2 separate regions of the Homo sapiens genome follow, and region 2 is linked to region 1. The links come from fine-mapping of genetic effects on gene expression. A gene starts in region 1. The other region holds a variant in brackets. All regions are shown on one strand. Distances are from middle to middle. Region 1 holds the start of CBX1 (chromobox 1). Region 2 holds the start of LOC124904017 (a long non-coding RNA gene).

Evidence for each region.
Region 2: its variant is fine-mapped to the expression of CBX1 in whole blood (TOPMed, PIP above 0.99).

The regions. Positions count from the first base shown.
Region 1 is chr17:48,097,998-48,105,997 of GRCh38, reverse strand. It overlaps CBX1 (chromobox 1), which reads left to right and starts at 4,520. Exons shown (of 5, transcript NM_001127228.2): 1 at 4,520-4,730. RefSeq lists enhancers at 4,102-4,361, 4,188-4,787 and a silencer at 4,732-4,781.
Region 2 is chr17:48,011,334-48,021,396 of GRCh38, reverse strand. LOC124904017 (a long non-coding RNA gene) reads right to left here and starts at 10,019. Exons shown (of 2, transcript XR_007065826.1): 1 at 9,804-10,019; 2 at 9,157-9,304. RefSeq lists enhancers at 3,594-3,693, 5,371-5,870, 5,871-6,372, 9,774-9,833 and a silencer at 8,886-8,935. The variant G/A (reference allele first, on the strand shown) is at 5,224.

The DNA.
Region 1 (8,000 bases):
GTGTGATAGGGAGTCAAGCCATTTAGAAAATACTGGTACAGAGTTATGCAGATCAGCCAATGTTGATGCATTTATTCAATGTAAAAAAAAATCACATTTATTAAATTCATCACTGATCTCATCAGGAAAGTCTCAAGAAACTGCCTACTGACTAGCTGGGATTACAGGCACGCGCCACCATGCCCAGCTAATTTTTGTATTTTTAGTAGAGATGGGGTTTCACCATATTGGTCAGGCTGGTCTTGAACTCCTGACCTCATGATCCACCCGCCTTGGCTTCCCAAAGTGCTGGGATTACAGGCATGAGCCACCGTGCCTAGCCTCACATGTCTTAATATTAAGACAGCCTCAACCTCCTGGGCTCAAGTGATCCTGCCACCCAAGCCTCCTAAGTAGCTGGGACCACAGGTGTGTGCCACCATGCCCGACTAATTTTTTATTATTATTTGTATAGATGAGGTCTCACTATATTGCCCAGCCTGGTCTTGAACTCTCAAGAGATTGAGACCATCTGGTGGTGTGTGATTGTAATTCCAGCTAGTCGGGAGACTGAGGCAGGAGAATCACTTAAACCCGGGAGGCAGAGGCTTCAGTGAGCCAAGATCATGCCACTGCACTCCAGCCTAGTGACAAAGTGAGACTCCGTCTCAAAAAAAAAAAAAAAAAAAAAAAAGAATGGTATACAGGACAAAGGCAGTGATGGCCCTCTCCACCTTGAAACACACATATAAGAGCCAGAATTTACTAACACAATAAATATGATACATCTGAAACTGTTGCCCTGTAATGTACAGTTTAGGAAAATGATGACATTTAAATAGAGACCTCAGGGAACATGATGGCTGAACTTCAATATTAGAAGAAACATATGAAAGAAAGATAAGGCTTACTGTGTGGCTACAGATGCCAGAATTAGGGAAAATAGGTGGCATCTCCATGGGGAGCAGAATTCAGCTCAATACAAGGAATTAGGGATGGCAGCATTTTATGTAGACAGAAATATGGTTTGGGTGTTAGATAGAAATGAGATTAAATCAATCAAGAATTTATGGCCAGGCATGGTGGCTCACATCTGTAATCCCAGCACTTTGGGAGGCCGAGACAGGTCAAGGCCTGCTTGAGCCCAGGCGTTCCAGACCAACCTGGACAATGTGACAAGACTCTGGCTCTACAAAATAGAAAAAATTAGCTGAGTAAGGTGTGGCTCAAAGCTACTCAGGAGGCTGAGGGGGAAAGATGACTTGGGCCTGGGAAGTTGAGACTACAGTGAACCGTGATTGCACTACTGCACTTCAGCCTAGGAGAGAGAGTAACATCCTGTCTCAAAAAAAAAAAAAAAAAAAAATAGGCCGGGTGTGGTGGCTCACACTTGTAACGCCAGCACTTTGGGAGGCTGCAACGGGGGGATCACAAGGTTAGGAGTTCAAGACCAGCCTGAAAACACAGTGAAAACCCGTCTCTACTAAAAATACAAAAATTAAGGCTGGGTGCGGTGGCTCACACCTGTAATCCCAGCACTTTGGTAGGCGGAGGCAGTGGGACCACTTGAGGTCAGGAGTTCAAGACCAGTCTGGCCAACATGGTGAAACCTCCCTCTACTAAAATTACAAAAATTAGCCAGGCACGGTGGCGGGCGACTGTAAACCCAACTACTCAGGAGACTGAGGCTGGATAATTGCTTGAACCCGGGAGGTGGAGGTTGCAGTGAGCCGAGATCTCACCACTGCCCTCCAGCCTGGGTGACAGAGCAAGACTCAGTCTCGGGAAACAAAAAAATTAGCTGGGCATGGTGGTGGGCACCTGTAATCCCAGCTACTCGGGAGACCAAGGCTGGATAATTGCTTGAACCTGGGAGGTGGAGGTTGCAGTGAACCGGATCATGCCACTGCACTCCAGCCTGGGTGACAGAGTTAGACTCCGTCTCAAAAAATAATAATAATAATAAATAAATAAAATAAAATAAAAAATAAACCAGAAGTGGTGGCTCACGCCTGTAATCTTAGCACTTTGGGCGGGTGGATGCCTGAACTCAGGAGTTCAAGACCAGCCTGGGCAACATGGTGAAACCCCCGTCTCTACTAAAATACAAAAAAATTAGCTGTGCATGGTGGCATGCACTTGTAATCCCAGTTACTTGGGAGGCTGAGGCAGGAGAAGTGCATGAACCCGGGAGGCGGAGGTTGCAGTGAGCCGTGATCTTGCCATTGCACTCCAGCCTGGGCGACAGTGCAAGACTCCACCTCAGGGAAAAAAAACAAAAAAAGCACTCATTAATAGTAGCTAATTATCATTACAACTAATTTTCTCATCATCATCAGTCAAAAACAGTACACTACAGGAGGAAGTGAGGAGATGCTTGCTTCTCACTTGCTTCTTCCTAGAAACCCAGCCCAAATGTTTCAGGAAGAATTGCTCTCTTTGTGTCCGGAGTTGATTCCTTCCGGTGGGTTTGTGGTCTCCCTGACTTAAACAATGAAGCCGCGGACCTTCATGGTGTTAAAAACAGCTCTTAAAGCTGGCAGGGACCCAAAGAGTGAGCAGCAGCAAGATTTGTTGTGAAGAGCGAAAGAACGCGAAAGAACAAGGCTTCCATAGCGTGGAAACCGACCTGAGCAGGTTGCTGCTGCGGGCTAACAGGAATGGGTGGGGGGCAGGGGGCCAGCTTTTACACCCTTGTTTGTCCCTGCCCATTTGCTATTTCTGTCCTATCAGAGTGCCCTTTTTTCAATCCTCCCTGTGATTGGCTACTTTTAGATTCCTGCATTTTACAGAGCGCTGATTGGTGCATTTTGCAGAGTGCTGATTGGTGCATTTTACAATCCTCTTGCTAGCTACAGAGGGCTGATTGGTGTGTTTTTACAGAGTGCTGATTGGTATATTTTACAATCCCCTTGCTAGGTATAGAGCGCTGATTGGTGCATTTCACAATCCTCTTGTAAGACAGAAAAGTTCTCCAAGTCCCCACTCGACCCAGGAAGTCCAGCTGGCTTCACCTCTCATCTTCTCTGTGCTTTCTTGAAGCCCTTTTAACTAAACTCTATTATGATATTGCTGGGCTGGGTTTTTCTTACATGACAGTTCTCCAGAGCCGTGAACAGTGCCTGCATCAGCAAAACTGTCTTATAAATGCAAACTCCTGCCCTGAACAGTGCCTGCATCAGCAAAACTGTCTTATAAATGCAAACTCTTGCCTTTTGGGGTAGAGTGCAATAGAGTTTCCCTCTTCCTCCTGATTAGAAGGATACTTTAAAATAAAAAAATAAAACTTTAGTTATATTGTGGCTTAAAAACATGTTTTTTTCCTAATTGTGTGTTTCCTTGGGATGATTGGGTGAAAGGTGCTGACGGAGATTAATGACACTGAAAAAGGTGAGCACAACTTACAATGAAAAAGAGGACATTTTTGTGGCGCAGCCAGTGAAAAGGGGGAAATTCAGGAAGCTATGAGAGGCCTATGGGGGGACCTAACCTACTCTAGGGAATCAGGGAAGACCTCAAAGGGGAAGTAATCTTAACACTGAACAGTATTTTTTTTTTTAGACGAAGTTTCGCTCTTGTTGCCCAGGCTGGAGTGCAATGGCGCGATCTCGGCTCACTGTAACCTCCACCTCCTGGGTTCAAGCGATTCTCCTCCCTCAGCCTCCCGAGTAGCTGGCACTACAGGCGCCCGCCACGACGCCCAGCTAATTTTTGTATTTTAGTAGAGATGGGGTTTCACCATGTTGGCCAGGCTGGTCTTGAAACCCTGACCTCAAGTGATCCACCCACCTCCGCCTCCCCAAGTGTTGGGATTATAGGCTTGAGCCACCGTGCCGGCGTGAGTAGGAATTTTACAGAGATTTGAGGAGGCAGAGATTGAGGACTAAGAAATCATTGGAAATTTGAGGCAGCGGCGATATGATAAAGTTCTGGTGAAGAATCTAAGATTCAAAAATTTTGAGGATGTGAATTACAGAACTGTCCAGAAGTGGTTGATTTTTTGGGGGCCAAGCATCAGGGGGCTCGCTTATAAAAATCATATGTTCTAATTTTTTTTTTTTTTTTTTTTTGAGATGGAGTCTCGCTCCATCGCCCAGGCTGGATCGCAGTGGCTGGATCTCGGCTCACTGCAAGCTCCGCCTCCCAAGTTCAAGCAATTCTTGTCTCAGCCTCCTGAGTAGCTGGGACTACAGGCACCTGCCACCACGCTCGGCTAATTTTTGCATTTTTAGTAGAGACAGGGTTTCACCTTGTTGGTAAGACTGGTCTCGAACCCCTGACCTCAGGTGATCCACCCGCCTCGGCCTCCCAAAGTGCTGGGATGACAGGCGTGAGCGACTGCCCCTGGCCCATATGTTCTAATATTCTAGGTTACAACGCTCTACGCTGCAATCTCTCCACCGTTACAGTTTAAAAACTATAAGTCCCTACCACCCTCGCCTACTGTGCGTGCGCGGCGCGCGGCGCTTCGGGCCTTGTAGTCTTGGACAGACCCCCGAGGCCCATGGTGCCGTGCGGCGGGTCGTTGCGCCTGCGCGGTGCGAGCGGCGGGCAGCGCAGACTGCGAGGCTCTTTTGTTCGGCTGAGGGGAGGGCCGTTGGCCGGGGCCTGCGGTACGCCGCTTCAGTGAGGGACGCCACTGCGGCCACCCGGCTTGCTGCCTTCCTGGGCGCCACTCCCCCAGGCGACCCGACGCGACGCGCCAGCAGCGCAGCACCGATTCCTCTCGGGCTCTTGGGCGCTGCTCTGAGGTGAGGAGCCCGCTGGAGGCGGGAGAGCTGGGGGAGGGGGCGCGGCGGCGGCGGCGGCGGGAGCCCTGCGTGAGGGAACGCGCTTTCGAGGCGGAGGTTAGGAGCGGGGAGCGCGCCCGGGTCCAGCGTCCTGCTTCTCCGCTTCCCGCGCTGAGCTCTTCGCCTGTCGCTGAGGCGTCGGTGCCAGCTGCGTGAAGGATGGAGAGGGCGGGGCGCGAATCCTGAGCCAGAGACTGAGTGCTTGGGGGTGGGCCGAGCACTTGGGGGCCGCTCTTCGGGGCCCGGGTGGTCTGGAACAATGTTGCTTGGCTGGGCGGCTGCGGGATAGGGCGGAAGGGGACAGGCTTGAGGCTTGGATAGGCGTGAGGAGGCGCATACGACCGCACAACCCGAGGTTTGTAACTGTATTCGGAAGACGCCGGGTCCGGCTGGGACTGCCAGAGGAACCTGGCTTTGCAGGACTACGGAGGAGTAACGTCGAGTGAATTGGAAGAGGGCCCAGGGCCGCACAAGGTGTGCTGATTGGAGGAGGAGATGTGTGGAATAAATTGGGAAAGGGGACACGGAGGGGGAGGGGCAGGCGTTTGCTGGGCCTGACTCTGGAAGGGGAGGAGCTGTTAGGATAAGTAGGGCGGAGATCCCGAGAATATTTCTATAAGGTATGTAAGAAAAAAGGGGAAAGCAGGCCGCCCTTGCATCCTGATGGGTCCTTACAGTGGGGAGGCTGTAAGAATAATGTGCGAAGAAAGGATGGAATACGCTTTTTTCAGTTTTCCAGGTTTCCTACTACCTTCACTCCATGATTCCTTTGGGGAGTTAAAAAAGTCCAAGTGCAGTTCTTGCTTTGATTCAAAATTAGTTCCGTACGTTTTTGTGTGGGATCGTAACTGGTCTCACAAAGGTGATGAAATTGTAAAAATATGTAGATGAGTTAATAGTTGAGGAACGGCGTGAGGTAGTGAGAGATTGTGAGATCGTGTGAGGTGCGAGAAATTGGGAGACATAGGAAAATTATGTGAGATTGTGAGGTAATATTTGTTTCGTGGGCCCTTCTGTTTTTAGCCAGCTTTTCCTTGTTGGAAAATTTGAATAGAGTGAGCTATATTTTACCTCTTTTTTTTTTTTTTTTTGAGAAGAGTCTTCCTCTGTTGCCCAGGCTGGAGTGCAGTGGTGCGATCTTGGCTCACTGCAACCTCCACCTCCCGGATTCATGCGATTCTCTTGCCTCAGCCTCCCGACTAGCTGGGATTACAGGCACACGCCACCACGCCCGGCTAATTTTTGTATTTTTAGTAGAGACGGGGTTTCACCGTACTGGTCACGCTGGTCTCGAACTCCTGACCTCGTGATCCTCCCGCGTCGGCCTCCCAAAGTGCTGGGATTATAGGCGTGAGCCACTGCGCCTGGCCATATTTTACCTCTTTTTCAAAGTTTCAAATGAGGGTTTTTCATAAATTGGTGTTACATTTAGACGTGTTGGTTTAACGCAATTGAGGTGGAATTTACAAAAAGTTCAGCTATAATCAGTTATATACTAGAACCCCTAGCCCAGGGTAAAGTAGCCTCCTCAATTGTGTTAAGAGTCACATCAGCAGTTTGGAAAGATTGTGAAAGGTCCAAGGCTTTGGAATAGATTCAGGAATACAATGGGGAAATTAATGCCGGTGTTCCTCCCTAGGTGCCTTATAGACTTTTATATGAAAGTGGTGTGATTGAAAAGCACTTGTATTGAAACCGGTGGCACCTTAATGAAGCTTCACGGGAGTGGAGGACCTGAAGTCGTTTACGGTTTTCCCTGTGGTGATATTTTTCTTCAATGGCTGCTGTATCCTAAATTGTTTCTCATTAAAAAAATAAATAGTAGGGTCGGGCGCAGTGGCTCAAGCCTGTCATCCCAGCACTTTGGGAGTCTGAGGTGGGCGGATCATGAGGTCAAGAGATCGAGACCATCCTGGCCAACCAACATGGTGAAACCCTGTCTCTACTAAAAATACAAAATTAGCTGGGCCTAGTGGCGCATGCCTGTAGTCCCAGCTACTCGGGAGGCTGAGGCAGGAGAATCGCTTGAACCCGGGAGGCAGAGGTTGCAGTGAGCCGAGATCTGCACCACTGCACTCCAGCCCGGGCAACAGAGCGAGACTCTGTCTCAAAAAAAAGAAAAGATAGATGATAGGTAGATAGATGGTGTGTGAAATAAATAGTTTTGAATGTAAATAGAAGCCTAGTGGTAAGTAAGTTACCCTGGTCTTCTGCATTTCTGAATACAGGATACCTATAACTTACAAACTATACCTCTAAAGAAAGATAGCACTCATTCTTGTGCCCATTTTAAGGACTAGGAAAATGTTTCTCTTTGTTGTTCACACCATTTGAAAATAATTCATTAAATTTTGGCATCCTCTAGTGGTTTATCTAGCAAAACCTCCCTTTTTTAAAAAAAAATCCTATCTGCAGTGGTGTAAGAGATTTTGCATTAGATTTGGTAGATTTTCACTTCATAGGTTCTTTCCACGAAGAGTTTCTGGTGTAGAAGGCTAATTGCTAGTTTATGGGCTCCCATAAAATGGAGCCATACTGGCCCCATCTCTACTAAAAATACAAAATTAGCTGGGCGTGGTGGTGCACACCTGTAATCCCAGCTACTTGGGAGGCTGAGGCAGGAGAATCGTTTGAACCCGGGAGGCAGAGGTTGCCATGAGCCGAGATCGCGCTATTGCACTCCAGCCTGGGCAACAAGAGCGAAACTCTGTCTCAAAAAAAGAAAAATGAAAAAATGGGGACGCACCTCTTGTTCATTAGTGCCTGGCACATAGTAGGCCGTTCAGATTGTTGATGAATGAATGATGAATAGGGGAGCTTTGAGATCCATTCTGAGAACTCAGCCAAATTAATGTGCATAGTAGTTTGCTTGTCCTGTGTCTGTGACATTTGGCAGAGTTAAGCTGTTGCTTTGCCATGTTTGTCTTAGCCTCAGTTAGTTTCTTTTTGTTTGTTTGTTTGTTTGTTTTTTGTTTTTTTAAGACAGAGTGTCGCTCTGTTGCCAGGCTGGAGTGCAGTGGTGGCATCATGGCTCACTGAAGCCTCAACCTCCTGGACACAAGCAGTCCTCCCACCACAGCCTCTTGAGTAGCTAGGACTACAGTCTCATGCCACCATGCATGGCTTCTTTTTTGTGGGGACAGTCTCTGTTGCCCAGAATGGTTAGCTTCAGTTTTGTACTCACTCTGGTACTAAATATAGAAAAGGTATACAGGCTGTGCAACTGGCCGT
Region 2 (10,063 bases), 86 kb after region 1:
ACCACAGGCATGTACCACCACACCCAGCTAATTTTTAAAAATTTTTTAATAGACACGAGGTCTCACCATGTTGCCCAGGCTGGTCTCAAACTCCTGAGCTCAAGCGATCTGTCCACTTTGGCCTCCCAAAGTGTTGGGTATACCGCGCCTGGCCCGTTAGCCTTCTTTTTACAAATGAGAGAGCTGAGAGTCTGAGAGACTGAATAACTTGCCTCAGAGCTCATAGGTGGGATTTAAACCCATTCTGGTCTGACTCCATTGCTGGCTCTTCTTTACCCCAACCACAGAGCTAAAGAACTTGGCTTGTGGCCAGTCGCCATGGCTCACACCTGTAATCCCAGTACTTTGGGAGGACAAGGTGGGTGGATCACCTGAGATCGAGACCAGCCCGACCAACATGGAGAAACCCTGTCTCTACTAAAAATACAAAATTAGCAGGGTGTGGTGGTGCATGCCTGTAATCCCAGCTACTCGGGAGGCTGAGGCAGGAGAATCGCTTGAACCCAGGAGGCAGAGGTTTCGGTGAGCCAAGATCGTGCCATTACACTTCAGCCTGGGCAACAAGAACGAAACTCCATCTCAAAAAAACAAAACAAAACAAAACAAAAAGTCAGTAAAGAACTTGGCCTGTGTTCTGAAGGTAATAGGGAACCACTGAAGATTTTCAAGCTGTTAAGTGATATCAGCTCTATGTTTTGAGGGAGGAACTCTGCTAGCAACATGGAACCTGGGTTAAAGAAGAGAACAGGAATTCAGGGTCAATTTATGACCCCCAAAACGAAATATTTTCATTACAGTCACTTCTCATTCTTGATCTAAAACAGTACCACCCAGCTTGATTGCTGATCTTACTCACCAAGCAGCTTGCAAAAATCAAGTCCACTCTCAGAATTTGAAGAGTTGGTGCTTGAATTAATTCAGATAATTGCAGGCAATCATTCCAAAAAAGGCCCTCCAAAAGGACCATTTTGTCAGGGACAATGATCTGAATATTTAGGTTCTGAAAAGTATGTTTAAAAATAACAAGTCGGCCGGGCACGGTGGCTCATGCCTGTGATCCCAGCACTTTGGGAGGCCAAGGCAGGTGGATCACAAGGTCAGGAGTTCAAGACCAGCCTGGCCAAGATGGTGAAACCCCCGTCTCTACTAAAAATACAAAAAAAAAAAAAAAAAAAATTAGCCAGGCATGGTGGCAGGTGCCTGTAATTCCAGCTACTCGGGAGGCTGAGGCAGGAGAATTGCTTGAACCCGGGAGGTGGAGGTTTCAGTGAGCTGAGATTGCACCATTGCACTCCAGCCTGGGCAACAAGAGCGAAACTCCGTCTCAAAAAAACAAAAAACAAACAAACAAAAAAAAACACAAGTCTACTTTATATCTTATATATTTAGTGCCCTCTTATCACTCTCACGTACCCCACTCTGAAAATAGACACATACACTTCAAATGAAAGAAAAAGAAGTAGCAAGAGGGATCTGATTCCATTTGACCAGATCCACAATTTCTCTTTGTCTAGACATCTGATTTTTTTTTTTTTTTTTTGAGACTGGGTCTTGCTCTGTCACCCAGCCTGGAGTGCAGTGGCATGAATACGGTTCACTGCAGCCTTGATTTCCTGGGGAGAAGTGATCCTCCTACTTCAGCTTCCCATGTAGCTTGGACTATAGGTGCACACCACGACACCTTGCTTTTTTTTTTTTTGCTTTTTTTTTTTTGGTAGGGAGATGGGGGTCTCACTTTGTTGTCCAGGCTGTTCTCAAACTCCTGGGCTCAAGTGATCCTCCTGCCTCAGCCTCCCAAAGTGCTGGGATTACAGGATTGAGCCGCCATGCCTAGCCTTTTTTTTTTTTCCTAAGGGACAGAGTTTTGCTCTGTCGCCTAGGTTGGAGTACAGTGGCGTGATCATGGCTCACTGCAGCCTCAACCTCCAGGTAGCTGGGACTACAGGCACATGCCACCACACCCGGCTAATTTTTTGTTTATTGTAGAGACAGGATTTTGCCATGTTGCCCAGGCTGGTCTTGAACTCCTGGACTCAAGCGATCCACCCAAGTCAGCCTCCCAAAGTGCTGGGATTACAGGCATGAGCCATCACAGCCAATCCAGACACCTGATTTTTAAGAGATTGAAAATATGTGTTTTACTCTCATGGCTGCCAGTGAGCCCTCATCTGAAACAAACAAACAAATAAACTTGAGGATAGAAGAAAACTCTGGAAGTGATGAGGCTATAACCTTGCTTCCAGACAACAGCTTCTTAGTGAGTGACAGGGTGTTCTGGGGTGGGGATATATGGGGTGAGTAGGTGAGGACTCAGGTTCTGGGTGGAATGATTGGAAGACTGGTTTCAGCTGCTTACCATTCCTAGCAGCCTTGTGTTTGGAAGGTTGGAGGGCTCTTGGAACATCCTCTCCTAAGAGATGGCTGGAAAAGTCCAGAATTAATTTATCTTGGGGAAACAGGTAAGATAAAAACTTCTGGAATCGGCCGGGCGTGGTGGCTCACACCTGTAATCCCAGCACTTTGGGAGGCCGAGGTGGGCAGATCACGAGGTCAGAAGTTTGAGACAAGCCTGACCAACATGGTGAAACCCCGTCTCTACTAAAAATACAAAAATTAGCTGGGCATAGTGACGTGCGCCTCTGGTCCCAGCTACTCAGAGGCTGAGGCAGGAGAATCGCTTGAACCCGGGAGATGGAAGTTGCAGTGAGCCAAGATCGCACCACTGCACTCCAGCCCTGGGTGACAGAGCGAGACTCCATCTCAAACAAACAAACAAACAAAACTTCTGGGACCCAAAGTCCCCCAAAATCTCAGTGTTCTCCAGATGGCAGCAAGAAGAAGTAGCTCTCACAGGTTTGCCCAGAAGATGGTGCTGTAAGACAAGCCCCTCTTTCATCCTTAGCCTGGCCGGGATCAGTGACGGGACTATGAAAAGGCTTGCAGGAACCAGACCTAGAGGGCATCTCTACTCTCTATTGGGCAGGAGTTATCTCACAGTGCTGAGCATTGCAGTCCATTCCTAGATACTCCCTAGACCACAGAGGAGAACCTTGGGGGTTCCCACATCAGAGCTGTGAGCACCTCCATGGGAACACGAAGGTGAGAGACCCTGGGCACCTGGGACAGCAATTGTCCTGAGAAAACAGGGCCTCTGATCAAGAAACACTGTCAAGAAATACAGACCTGGCTGGGCATGGTGTCTCGCTCCTGTAATCCCAGCACTTTGGGAGGCCGAGGTGGGCAGATCACTTTAGGTCAGGAGTTCGAGACCAACATGGCCAACATGGTGAAACCCTGTTTCTACTAAAAATACAAAAATTAGCTGGGCATGGTGACACATGCCTGTAATCCCAGCTACTCGGGAGGGTGAGGCAGGAGAATTGCTTGAACCCAAGAGATGGAGGTTGCAGTGAGCCGAGACTGCGCCACTGCACTACAGCCTGGGTGATGGAGTGAGACTCTGTCTCAAACAAACAAACAGAAAACAAATACAGACCTTTTCCTCCAACTCTGGAGATTTGGACCCATTCCCCAAGGTAGCTGGGAGGTTGAGGAAGGGGTCTGAGGGGCTTGGGCACTGACTGAAGTTTATACTCTAAGGTAGAAAAAAAAAAGTGGATCTTTCTGGGAGAGCAAGCTAGAGGCCTTCAGATTAGGAAAGTGAAACTCAAAGGTTGACTTACCCAATGTCACACAGCTAACAAGGGACAGAACTGAGACAAGAAAGAGGGTTTCCTGGAACCCTCTTACCTCTTCCTCTTTCTGCCCTGTGTTTTCTGCAGATCATGAGAATATAACGTTTATAAATAGAATTCCCTTGACAAGGAGTGCCTTCCTGGGCAGTAAGAAAAAATAGCAGGGCTCTTGACTCAAAACCCCAATGCACATTTTTCTTTGCATGCTTTTTTTTTTTTTAACAGTCTCACTCTATCACCCAGGCTAGTGTACAGTGGCACAGTCTCTGCTCACTGCAACCTCCACCTCCCAGGTTCAAGTAATTCTCCTGCCTCAGCCTCTTGAGTAGCTGGGATTACAGGCACCTGCCACCATGCCTGGTTAATTTTTGTATTTTTAGTAGAGACGGGGTTTCACCATGTTGCCCAGGCTGGTCTCGAACTCCTGAGCTCAAGCAATCTGCCCACCTCGGCCTCCCAAAGTGCTGGGAGCCACCATGGCTGGCTCCAATAGCGTTTTCTAATTTTTATTTTATTTATTTATTTATTTATTTATTTATTTATTTATTTATTTATTGAGACAGAATCTTGCTCTGTCGCCCAGGCTGGAGTAAGTGGCGCCATCCTGACTCACTGCTGCATGTGCCTCCTGGGTTCAAGTGATTCTCGTGCTTCAACCTCCCAAGTAGCTGGGACTAGAGGCACACAACACCATGCCCAGCTAATTTTTGTATTTTTAGTAGAGACAGGGTTTCACCATATTGGCCAGGCTAGTCTCAAACTCCTGACCTCAAGTGATCCTCCCGCCTTGGCCTCCCAAAGTGCTGGGATTACCGACATAAGCCACCACGCCCAGCACGTCTGTTTTTTAAATAATGAAATTAATAAGTGAGTCCCATCAGCTGCACTTCTTTTCTGAGGATAATTTATATACAAGACACAGAAAAGCTTCTTGCACAATGTTCTTTTAATAGGATTTATGTAAACTCACATTTGTCAGGATCCGTAAAAGTATTCTATTTCTTTCACACATGTAATTTTTTTGTACCTCTATCTCAGTGAAGGAGGCAGGCGTTGTCATTCCCACTTGTGAGGTGATTGAGGATGCTCTCGGGTGCTGGGAGCAGAAGCAATGCGGCCTGAACCCAGGTATGGATTTCATTTTGAAGAAAGGTCTCCTTGTAGGGCACTATCCTGGACCCAGTGGGCCTGCCCTTCCTATTTATTTCTTAGTGAAACCAGAAAGTTTGCTGGGGCCAGTATGATGGAGCATCGTGACTGACAAATGGCTGGGATTAGTCTAATGGGTAGGCAGCTGTATATGGAGGAAGGCGATGAGGGATCAGACCATTTCCCCAGATTCCAGTGGAAACTTTGCAGGCAGTAGCTAAATGAGTCAGAGAAGATAAGAAGACTGGAGTACCTTGCAGAACACTTCCCATACCCTCCCACCTCCAGCCCCAAGGAGGATTAGGATGCAGGGAGTCTGCAGATGAAACAGTTGTTTACAAAGGCTGGAGAAGCATGCCAGGAAACTAGTCCAGGGGCA[G/A]TTTCCAGGGCCTGAGATTGATACTACTCCATCTTGAAAACTGAAAAAAAAAAAAAAAAAAAAAAAAAAAAAAGTGTGACTCTTTAGTTCTGTACTCCCTTTAGTTCTGGGAGTGCATTTGGAGTTTCCTTTAAATTCTATGTGGATACAGGATGCTGAAGGAGGAGAATCACTTGAACCCCAGAGTCAGAGGTTGCAGTGAGATGAGATGATGCCACTGCTCTCCAGCCTGGGCGACAGAGTAAGACTGTTTCAAAAATAAAACAAAAGGCCAGGCGTGGTGGCTCACGCCTATAATCCCAGCACTTTGTGACTCCATCTCAAAAAAAAAATAATAAATAAATAAAATAAAATAAATTGTATGTGGATAAATTGAGGAGAGCTAAGGTGCAACACATGAGAAAGAGACAAGGGGTGGGGGTGGGCACAGTGGCTCACGCCTGTAATCCCACCACTTTGGGAGGCCAAGGCAGGTGGATCACCTGCGGTCAGGAGTTCACCAGCCTGGCCAACATGGTGAAACCTTGTCTCTACTAAAAATACAAAAATTAGCTAGGCATGGTGGCACACGCCTGTAGTCCCAGCTACTCCGGAGGCGGAGGCAGGATTGTTGCTTGAGCCCATGAGGCAGAGGTTGTAGCGAGCCGAGATCACGCCACTACACTCCAGCCTGGGCGACACAGTGAAACTCCAACTCAAAAAGAAAAAAAAAAGGGGGCGGGCGTGGGTGCTGGGAAGGCAAGAAGGAAATAGCAGAGGAGAGACAAGGGAACTCCTGGCTTGGGAAGGCTCTTGCCTGTCCCACCTCATGCAAGCATAAGCACTCCTGCCAAGACGGGGGCCCTCCGGAGGATGTCCAACTTAAAGCTCAGATCCTGGGCAGCAGCAATGGGGAGGGGATTGGGGTATCCCAGGGCAGATGGCCTTAAGGGACCTATTTGTAGAGGCAGAGGCCCAGAGGCTGTCATATGCAAGCTGCTTAGGGTCACAAGAGAAATCCGGAGCTTCCCTGATGACCATCTTTCTTCTCCTCCTCTTTCTGACTCTCTTCTTCCTTCCACTCTCCCTAAACCTGCTGAATCCCTTAGGCAGCTGGGATCAACATAAGCTAGAAACTGATGCGTATACAAGGGAAATCGGGAAGCCTAGAAACAGCAGAACCTGGGAGGGGTACCTGTGTACAGGGCAAATGAAGGGAGCCTGAAAACAGCTGAATCTGGGGAGATGGAACTGCCTAGTGAGAGAGCAAGGGGCTTCTGGAAACTGCTGAATCCAGGGAGGCCAATTTGTATACCGGGGAAATATGGGGGAACCTAGAAACAGCAGGATCTGGGGAGACAGTCGTGTACAGGGGGCAGACAGAGGGAGTAGCCTGAAAACAGTTGAATCTGGGGAGGAAGATTCGTGTGCAGAGGGAACAAGGGGAGACTGGAAACAGCACAATCTGGGGAGATAGGATAGTGTACAGTAGAAGCTAGGGTGGCCTGGAAACTGGGGCTCTCAGGGGATGAATCTGCTTTAAATTGCACGGGGGGGTGAGGGAGCCTGGGGAATCTGATGTGGCAGGCGCGAGCAGGGACACGGGCAAGCACAGGGGTGGAGTCAGGGTGCTGGTTGCATGGAAGGGGAACGCAATGGAACTCCCTGCCTTGTAGGTTTGAGTTAGACCCCTTGGCAGCCTCTTCTTGCAGACAGGGCAGGGTAAGGGAGTAGCTCTCCAATGGGGAGCCAGGATTTCACACGGCAAGAAGAGAAGGGCCTTTGTGTGCAGTTGCTGCCCTGGTCCTAAAATGAGCAAAGCCTGGAATTCCCTAGGGGAAACAGCCCAGGAGTTGGAGTGGGAGAGGATGAGGAGGTTGAAGGAGCTTCGGTCCCCTTGCCTGCCTTCTTCCCAACCCCTCTCTGACAGGGATAGGCCTCTTTCTCCCTTTCTACCGACCAGCCTGACCTCTCCCTTCAGCAGTTCCCTTCTGAGTGACAGACAGACAAAGACAGAGCTGTAGACCATTGACTGAAGGAGGCCCCACAAAAGTTCTCTCCCAACCCACCATCCCCCCATACCCTCCCCAGAGGCCCTGAGCCAGCCAGGGCCAACAGGAGCTGTCACTCTAGTGGAGCTGCCTTCAGGTAGGTGACAGGCCTTCAGGAGGCAGGGTGACTAGGGGCTGGGAAAGGCCTGAGATTTTTGGGATTCTGTCTGTGCCTCTTGGAAACCAGAGTTTCCCAGCCGGTTGCCTCTGAGAGAGGACTTGGAAACCAGAGTTTCCCAGCTGGTTGCCTCTGAGAGAGGAAAGAGGGCAGAACAGTGGCCACTATTGCAGAAATAAAAACCTGGTTCCACTATTTCTAGCTGTGGGATCTTGGCCAGTTGTCATTCCTCTCTGGATTTCAGTTTTTTCATCTGTAAAATGAAGGATCGGTCCAGATCTCTAAAGGCCCTTGCAGCTCTAGCATGAGGATTCTTAGTAGCCTCGGAGAGAGAGCTCAGCCTGGCATTTCTTCTTATTTGCTAATACGGCTCAGAACTTTCCGGCGAACATTGGAAGGAGGCTGGCATTTGGGATGTTGTGAGAGTGTTTAAGCAAGCTTTCCCTGGCATTGGTAACACTTCTGGAACATGAGTGTTTCTACTTTTCGTCACTCCAAAGGGTTCCTCCCCTTGAGCAAAATTATTTTTTACGCCAACCACCTCAGGCTTCCTGCCTTGTGATTTAGGCTGGAAGGTGGAATCTGAACCCAGAATCTCATCTTCCTGTCCCAAATCTGCCTTCTTCCCTGCCGGCCTCACTCCCAACCTCTCTGTGCTCTCTTGCCTCTGGCTTCTGTTATTACCTCGTTTCTCCTAAAGCCAGGGATGTTTATGCTTGGGATCTTATAGTGAAGCCTCAGAGTCTCAGGGAAAGGACCCTCCTCCCCTAACAGAAAGACAGCCAGGTACCCCAAGGCCCCGAGGCATCGCACTGCCCCTTGTTCATTACTAAGTCCGGAGAGGGTTCGCAGTGCATCCCTTGCAAGGCTGCCAGCCGGGGGTACATCTGAGACCACCTATAAAAAACCACCCTCAGCCTGGAAGCATGGAAAGCATAGTGTGTGTGTGATGTGGAGGGGGTCAAATAACCATGGGCCTAACTCAGGCCAGGCCTGAGTGGCTAGAGTACCAGACCTGTGCTTCTCCACTCCTCCCTTTAGTCTGAGAAACCACTGCGTTTAGCACAAGAAGCATGGCTTGGGCTGATGCTCTGATGGTTCCAGAAACCCTGCCCACCTCCAGGCTGTGCAGATGAAATCATTCCCAGCACTTACAGAACGGGAATGGAAGAGTCTTGTCCAGATGGAAGGGGAACTATGGTTGCCTGCCTTACCTCTCTTGGGGACCTCAGGTGACCTGCCTCAACATACCAAGGGGGAGGAGGAGGAGTCTTCAGGGGACAGTGCTGGGAGCTGGACTCCCGGGGTTCAATGTCACCAAAGATGGCCTGGGGACACAGAACCTCTTGCGAACCGCACTGGGTCCAGTCCTCCCTAAACACAGGCTGAGTGCGGGTCGTCTCTCCCCCACTCTGCCTTCCTGGGCACCGTCAGGGATGCGCGGGCAGTTCTCAATGAGTCCCAAGGCTGTGGGAGCTGAAGGGGTAGTGGGCCGGGCGGAGGAGGGAGGGGGGAGGGGGGAGGGGATCTGATTAGAATCCGGGCCGTATGGCGAACACTGCGGAGATGGAGGTAATCACTGAGCGGGCGAGACAGCGTGCTCGGCGACAGCAGGCGGCCCCGCCGTCGCCATGGCAACCGCGGCCTCCGGGGCGCGCGGCTAGGCGCAGCTCCGCGTCTGCGGCGGAACATCTGCTTTGCACAGGGCTGCTGGGAGCCAGGGGGCGCGGGCGCGGCTGCTCCCCCCACCCCGCGAAAAAGAAACAAATTAGGCCAACTGTCCAATGAGGGGCCGCAAATGTATTTATTAATGCGAGGGAAAGGTTGTTCCGGAGCGCAGTTTGATTAATGTTTGAGTCTTCAGCTTGTCAGTCTGGTTTTGTCTCCTGCAAAAGGGGAAAAGGGAGGGGTTGGGTGAGGGGCTGGTAGGGGACTGGGGAGGAGAGAGACAACAAAGCGGGAGGGGATGTTAATAGCCAAATAGGCTCTTTTTCATGTTTCCCCCAGCCTGCCATCCTTGATGGATGGCTCAGACAGACACCAGAGCGCATCAGGGAGACGCAAGCCCCTCAGAGAGATGGCGGGATGGAAGAGAGGGGACCGCTGGAGCCTGGCTGGGGTCGGTGCGGCGGGAACTCCCGAGGGCTGCCTGGAGAGGAATGGCCCAGGAAACGGGCAACTTCTGGGGAAACCAGAGGAAAATTGCACTCATGTTTACAAGTCTCCCCTCCCCTCCCCAGTTTGCCCCTCTGGGCCCTGGAGATAGCACCGAGGTCGGAGAGTGAGGGGTCTCCATACTTTCTGGATATAGAAAGAGGCGAGAAGCTCTCATCCGTGTGTTAGGGACGGGAGAAGGGAAGTAGGCAAAAGCCTATGCTTCGAATTCTCCTTCCTCTCTCTTTCCTCCACCCTTTTCTTTTCTTTCCTCTCACCCTATGTCCTCGGCCGTATATCATGTCTTCACTTTTGCTCCGTCGTCCCTCCTTCCTCTTCGTCTCTTCTGTTGTTTCTTTCCTCCATCTCCCCCATGCCCCGTTGGTGACATCAGCTGGCTGTGATAGGAACTGCCTTGCGAAGATGTCTTCTGTGACCAGTCTGAACACCTATAATGCTTTCTATTTTTCCTTCTCTAGAGTCATGGGGGAACTGAGAGCCCCCTTGGAAACTCAAATTTGACGACCCAGTTTGTGAG